Homo sapiens: one gene and its partner. The protein of the gene in region 2 purifies or fractionates together with the protein of the main gene of each other region. This does not show direct contact. Each region holds a gene or a part of one and is shown on either strand. Other genes may lie near its edges.

Region 1 (3,815 bases), on a different chromosome or scaffold from region 2:
CAGTGGGTTCCACTGTCTCAGCCTGCCAGCTCCCTCAAGGGCTCCTGACCTCTCCAACAGGGCTCAGTCCCCAGACTGGTGAGCATAGTAACAGCCATTCTGTCTCCTGGGGCTTCCCAGGAGCCAATCCCCAACAGAAAATGCTTCACAGGAAAATGCATCAGGGCTGCCCCAGGCCCACCCGGGCTTCTGGGTGCTCAGGAGGATCCTGCTGTCAACTCTGCAATGGAGGTAGCCTTGCAGCTGCCTGGGATGCTGCTAGAACTTGTCTGGGTCTATACTATTTCTTCACCCCCTTCCCTTTTACAGAAGGGAAAACTGAGGCCAATTCATTCAGTCATTTAGCAAACATTTGTGGAGGGTGCACGATGTCTCAGCACTGGGGATTCTATGGTGGAAAAGACCAAGACTCTGCACTGCAGAGGGAGAAACTCAGAAGACAACTGGAAAATGTGGTGAACGTCAGGGAGGGGAGTGGGGCTGCTCTCCCCAGGGAGGTCAGAGGTCTCCAGGAGGAGGTGGCATCTGAGATGAGAACCAAGGGATGAGAAGCTGTGTAACTTGCCAGGGGCGGGAGAGTTCCAGGCCAAGGGAAAGGTGCAAAGGCCCCGGGGTAGCAAAGAATTTGGTGCCTTTGAAGAACAGAAAGGAGACCCTGTAGCTGGTATTCAGCTAGCAAGGGGGAGACAGGACCTGAGAGATAGGCAGGGGCTAGATCTACAAAGCCCTTAGGCCATGAGGAGTGAGGAGTTTGGGTTTATTTTCTCTCTTGTGGGAAGCTTTTTAGTAGTGGAGTGATGAGCTAATTCTAGCAAGGGTGTGACTTGGGGAGCGGGTGAGGGAAAAGGCAGGAGACTGGTGGGGAGGCTGCTGCAGTGGGCAGGGGGTAGTGGGGGGCCTGGACAAGGGCTTCAGCTGCAACCAGAAGGAGAATGGTGGGTGGGTTTCAGGATATATTTTAGAGGAAGTCCTGCTGGAGGATGAATGTGGAGGGTGAGGAAAGAGGAATCAATGATGACTTCTGGGACTTTGACCTGAGCTCCTGGGTGGGTGTTGGTGCCATTAACAGAGTCGGGAAGAGTAAGGAGGAGCAGACTGGGGGGATGGGGGAAGACCAGGGTTTGGTTCTGAACATATTGAGCCTGAGATGCCTGTTAGACTTCTAAGTGGAAGATGTCAGCTGGCAGTTTGGTGATGCAAGTTGAGAGCTCAGGGGGAAGACGGGCTGGAAGTAAAAATTTGGAAGTCGTTGGTGTAGAGATGGGATTTAAACCCGAGAGTAGATGAGCTCATCCTGGGGGTAAGTGTAGATGGGGGAGTGTTTGTGGACCCAGCACACACCAGCCTTTCATGAACAGATGCCTGGTGCCCTAGGCCAAAGGGGCCTCCTCGCTGTCCCTCCAGCTCCTCTTTGTCACCCCCGCCCCGCTACACCCCCCACCCCAGTGCTCCTCTAGGGCCAAGAGTGGGTTGTCCTAGGGCAGGCCAAGTCTGGTGGGAATGTGGCAGAGGGGCCGAGAGCATGGTGTGGAGTCAGACCTGCCGAGTATGAAGCTCAACTCTGCCACTTACAAGCAGAGAAACCCTGGGCATGTTCCCCAAACCCTGCCCAGCTGCTATTTCCTCATCTGTAAAATGGGGATAATAATAGCACATCCCTTGTGAGATTATGGTGAGTGTTGAAACAATCCCCAGGAAGCACTCGGGGCAGGGCCTGGCATGGAGGACGCGCTGCTTCTATCCCTGCCTGGGCGTAGACAGGCAAGCCCTCTGGGATGGCGTGGGCTGGGAGGTGCACCAGGATGGGGGCACGGGTTGGGGATCTTCTCCATCCAGGGTAGGGTAGGGGTCCTGAGGAGCGACCCTCTGCCCAGAGCCGAAGGAGCAGCCTGGGAGGAAGGGTTTTAGGTTTCCCCGTAACTCTGCCTACCCCCCACCCCCAGGCTTTCTGTCTCCCCCAATGCCCTTGTCCCTTCCTCCCCATTCTTTTTTTTCTTTTTTTTTTCTTTTTTTGAGATGGAGTCTCACTCTGTCACCCAGACTTGGAATGCAATGGCGCGATCTCAGCTCACTGCAACCTCCACCTCCCAAGTTCAAGTGATTCTCCTGCCCTAGCCTCCCAAGTAGCTGGGATTACAGGCATGTACCACCACGCCCGGCTAATTTTTGTATTTTTAATAGAGATGGAGTTTCATCATGTTGTCCAGGCTGGTCTCAACTCCTGACCTCCAGTGATCCACCCACCTCAGCCTCCTAAAGTGCTGGGATTACAAGTGTGAGCCATAGCACTCAGCTCTCTGCTCTGCATTCTATCCCAGCATGGACGTGATGCTGGTCTCTGGACTCTGAGAGCCCTTCTCTTTGTCAAACCTAGCCTTTCCCAGGGGAGACAGCCCCCTCCCCACTATTAAGCTCTGTCTCTTCCTCTGAACACACCAGGATGCATCATAGTGGTCCCATTTCTCAGATTTGGAGATGGAGGCCAAAGTCTATTAGGGGATAAATGAGACATCCTAGGCAGAGTATCGATGACCTGGATGGGGCAGAGGGAACTAATATTTCCTTGGCACTTGCTGTGTGCCAGGCCCTGAGGATACAGTTGTGAGTCAGCCAGACCCATCCTGCTTGGGGAGGCTTGCGGCTGATCGGGGCAGACAGACATGAAATCCACAAAGAGCACGTTTGTCGTGTATTTTGAAGGAGGCTGCTCCTGCGTTGCAAGGAGCCTGACATTGAGGGGAGGGGGGCTTTCTGGGCCATCAGAAGGCCTCCTGAGGAGGTAGCATTTAAGATTGGACCTGAGCAAGACTAGGACGTGGTCAAGCCAAGGTGTGGACTTCCGCAGGTGCAGGGACTGTCCTGAGCAAAGAGTTAGGGGGAAAAGAGCCCAACGGGTTTGAGAACCCGGATGAAGGATGAAGGGCAGTGTGGCTGAGTGAGGAGCAGAGGCCAGAGGTGAGACTAGGAGGGTTGGGGAGGCGGGGCTTGAGGGGCCTGTTAGGGGCCCTTTGACACCCCCCCACCCACCTGGAGAGCTGCCACACTCTGCTCCAGCCTCTGCATGCTCAGAGCACGCAGCTGCCACGTGCTAAGCACACACTGCCTGTGGGCCACATGTGGAGCACACCCCTGGGGCTGGAAACATGGAAATGCACCCATCCACAGCCAGAGGACATCCTCTCCAAACCCACACCCCACCGTGGCCCAGAGGAGCTGGGAGTGAAAGGTGACCCTGGCAGACAGCATCTGATCTCGGCGCCAGGAGAATTGAGTTTCCCAGGCCCTGGCTGGGTCAGAGGGTCGGACCCAGGGAAGGGGGTGCAGGTGGGAGAGTGGAGAGGGTGGGCAGGGCAGGAGTGGAGGAAGTGGGTCATGGACACAGTGCTGTCAGGCGTGGAGAAACGGACGCCCACATGCCATATGTCTATGTATTCCAGTTATAAATCAAGCTGAGGAATTGCTAAATGCAATACATTCTGCCCTCCCACCATAACAAACACACCTTCATCACAACCTGACCAGCTGGGTTTGAATTCAGAATTTCAGACTCCTTGGAGTTCCGTGGTGGATGTGGAGGCGTGGGGACAGGTGTCCCCTCTCCGCAGGCTGCCCCGTCATTTCCCTCTTTATCCCTCCAGGGTTCACTTGTGAACACCCCAGCCCTCATATCCCAGCTCCAGAAAGGACCCACCTTGGGCCTGGGCTGGTCCCCACTTGGGCCTGGGCGGTGGGCTTGGAACTGCTTGAGAGGGAATTCTGGGGCATCTGAGCGTAGCCTACGAGGGGAGCACAGGCTTCAGCTGGGCACCTCCCCT
Region 2 (3,815 bases):
AGCAAGACCCCATCTCTTGAAAAAATAATAAATAAATAATTTTTTAAAAAAGACAAATTGATCGGGCACTGTGGCTCACACCTGTAATCCCAACACTTTGGCAGGCCAAGGCAGGAAGATGGCTTGAGCCCAAGAGTTCGAGACTAGCCTGGGCAACATAGTGAGACCCTGTCTCTACAAAAATATTTTAAAATGATGGCCAGGCTTGGTGGCTCATGCCTGTAATCCCAGCACTTTGGGAGGCTGGGGTTGGAGGATCCTTTGACTCCAGGAGTCCGAGACCACCCTGGGCAAGATAGTGAGACCCCCATCTCTAAAATAAATAAATAAATAAATAAATAAAATAAAAATTAGCCAGGCATGGTGATATGCACCTGTAGTCCCAGCTACTGAGCAGACTGAAGTGGGAGGATCACTTGAACCCAGGAGTTCAAGGCTGCAGTGAGCCATGATCACACCACTGCATTCCAGCCTGGGATACACAGTGAGACCCTGTCTCAAAAAAAAAAAATTTTTTTAAAGACAAATCAAGTGGAGAAAAAATGAGGAGACAGATGATTGATCTAAACAACATAACAGAGGAGATGATATAGATGTATATCAAACTCCACACCTTGATAACAGAAATGATATATTCTTCTCCAGTGCTCACAGCACATTCACACACACACACACACACAAAAACTGCTCATGTCACAAAGAAAACACCTTCCATCAAGTAAAGATACTAAAAACAACACTTGCCAATCATAATGCTTAAAACTAGAATTTACTAACACGACCATCACCACCAACAGAAGAAAGGTGTGTCTATCTAAAAATTTGAGAATCTCCTGATAAACAACTTCCAGATAAAAGGAAATGCAATGAAAATGTTGGAGAAATTTAAAGAAATACTAACGGACAGACATGGTGGCTCATGACTGTAATCTGCCTATAATCCCAGCACTTTGGGAGGCTGAGGCAGGAGTTTGAGACCAGTCTGGGCAACATAGGGAGACCTCATCTCTACAAAAAAAATTTTAAAATTAGCTGGGTATAGTGGCACATGCCTGTAATCCCAGCTACTTGGGAGGCTGACGGAGGAGGATCATTTGAGCCTGAGAAGTTGAGGCAGCAGTAAGCAGTAATTGCACCACTGTATGCCGGCCTGGGTGACAAAGTGAGACCCCGTATCAAAAATAAAAAAATAAAAAATAGATACTAACAAAAAAACACACATCACATGTGAAAACACAATGTAATCATCTAAGGGAAAAATAATTACATGATTATCTCCACAGAAGGGAAAGTCTGACAAAATTCAATATCTATTCATAATAAAAAATACTCAGGAAAATACAGAAATTGAGATACTTTAATATATAAATACACCTTAGTCCTAAAGCCAAAATCTTATTTCATGGGCAAACCTTATTTCAGAGGCATGTCCATTAATTTCAGAGATTAATATCAAGAACAAAGCAAAAATGTCCACTATCTCTGCTACTATCCACCTGTGCAATATTAGCCAATAAAATTAGAAGAGATAAATCAATTAGAGATATAAAAATGGGTAAAGGCCAAGCACAGTGACTCACGCCTGTAATCCCAGCACTTTGGGAGGCTGAGGTGAGTGGATCATCTGAGGTCGGGAGTTCAAGACCAGCCTGACCAACATGGAGAAACCCCGTCTCTACTAAAAATACAAAATTAGCTGGGCATGGTGGCGCATGCCTGTGATCCCAGCTACTCGGGAGGGTGAAGCAGGAGAATTGCTTGAACCCAGGAAGCAGAGGTTGTGGTGAGCTAAGATTGCACCATTGCACTCCAGCCTGGGCAACAAGGGCGAAACTCCGTCTCAAAAAAAAAAAAAAAAAAAAAAAAGGGTAAAGAAAAGCTATCACTAATTGTAGATAATATGATATACTACCTGGAAAACCCCAAAATCAATGATAAAATTTATTCAATAATAACTCAGCAGGCGGGGCATGGTGGCTCATGCCTGTAATCCCAGTGCTCTGCGAGGCTGAGGTGGGTGGATTGCTTGAGGTCAGCAGTTCGAGACCATCCTGGCCAACACGGTGAAACCCTGTCTCTACCAAAAATACAAAAATTACAGGCTCACGCCTGTAATCCCAGCACTTTGGGAGGCCAAGGCAGGAGGATCAAGAAGTCAGGAGTTCGAGGCTAGCCTGACCAACATGGTGAAACCCTGTCTCTACCAAAAATACAAAAAATCAGCCGGGCATGGTGGCGCATGCCTGTAATCCCAGCTACTCAGGAGGCTGAGGCAGGAGAATCACTTAAACTCAGGAGGCGGAGGTTGCAGTGAGCCAAGATTGCCCCACTGCACTCCAGCCTGGGCGACAGAGTGAGACTCCTTCTCAAAAAAAAAAAAAAAAAAAAAAAAAAAACAACACTCAGTGAAGTTGCACAATATAAGATTAATACATAAAAATCAATAGCCTTCATATATACAAACCATAAAAGAAGACATTATGGTAGAGAAAAATCCCATTTGCAATAGCAACAAGATCATTAAATACTTAGGAATAAAGTTAATTAAAACTGTGCAAGAAAAAGTTTAAATCACTATTAAAAGACACTAAAGTTAACTTGAACAAATGAAATGACATCCCCTGTTCCTGGATAGGATTCAAAAATATAAAGATGTCAGTTCTTCCCAAGTTAATTTATACATTCAATGCAATCCCAATACAAATACTGACAAGATAATATTGACAAGTTGATACTAAAATTCATATGGAAAAACAAAAATTTAAGACTAGGAAAACAATGAAAAAAAAACTGTAAGGGGGGATAGGTATAACAGACATTAAAACCTACTGTACAAAGCCTTCATAATGAAACAGTGAGGTACTGCTGCATATGTACACAAAAAGATGAGGTCCAGAATTAGACTCAAGTACATATGGAAATAAAAAATATGGCAAAGATGGCATCTCAAATCACTAGAGTCAAGATGAACTTTGTATTAAATACTGCTGGAACAGTATTCACTGTTGGAAAAAGATAACTCACAAGAATAAACTTGCAAATGAATTAGAAATCTAAATGATAAAAAATGAAACCATACAACTACTAAAGGAGATACTGGTGAATTCCTCTTTAACCTTTGTATTAACACTTAGTATTACGTAGTAGAGAAGGGCCAAATATGATTTAAAATTCACAAACAGTAAAAGAGTGATACATTTAACTACATAAAAATTTAAAAATTTTTGCATGACAAAAAAAAATTTAAAAACTCAGAAAAAAAATTAAAAGCTAACAAATTGGGAGAAAATATTTGCAACATATACCACTGACAAGGGACTAATACCCCTAATATACAAACAGCTCTTAAAAACTGAGAAACAGGATGGGCATGGTGGCTCACACCTTTAGTCCCAGCACTTTGGGAAGCCGAGGTGAAAGGATTGCTTGAGGCCAGGAGTTCAAAACCAGCCTGGGCAACACAGAGAGACTCCATCTCTACAAAAAATTTAAAAATTAGCCAGGGCATGGTGGTACACATCTGTAGTCCCAGCTACTCAGGGCAGTTGAGGTAGAAGGTTGAGGCTACAGTGAGCTGTGATCACGCCATTGCATTCCAGCCTGGGTGACAAGAGCACCATACTATTTTAAATAAATAAATAACGTTTTACAACTGAGGGACACAGCATTACTTACAATAGTCGAAAGGTGGCCTCCTTTAAGCTGAAGCTAAGAAAAAAAAAAAAATGGTGAAAGCAACCCAACTGTTCATGACAGATGAATGGCTAAACAAAATGTAGTATATACATACAATGAAACATTTATTATTCAGCCTT

What was found.
Region 1: the proteins of CABIN1 (region 2) and DNM1 purify together in Homo sapiens (affinity purification with western blotting, with the first as the bait; one study listed by BioGRID). This does not show direct contact.

The regions. Positions count from the first base shown.
Region 1 is NC_000009.12:128,206,064-128,209,878, forward strand, and holds part of DNM1 (dynamin-1), read left to right. Parts: intron 1-3,815. UniProt on the Homo sapiens protein: Catalyzes the hydrolysis of GTP and utilizes this energy to mediate vesicle scission and participates in many forms of endocytosis, such as clathrin-mediated endocytosis or synaptic vesicle endocytosis as well as rapid endocytosis (RE).
Region 2 is NC_000022.11:24,017,702-24,021,516, reverse strand, and holds part of CABIN1 (calcineurin-binding protein cabin-1), read right to left. Parts: intron 1-3,815. UniProt on the Homo sapiens protein: May be required for replication-independent chromatin assembly. May serve as a negative regulator of T-cell receptor (TCR) signaling via inhibition of calcineurin. Inhibition of activated calcineurin is dependent on both PKC and calcium signals.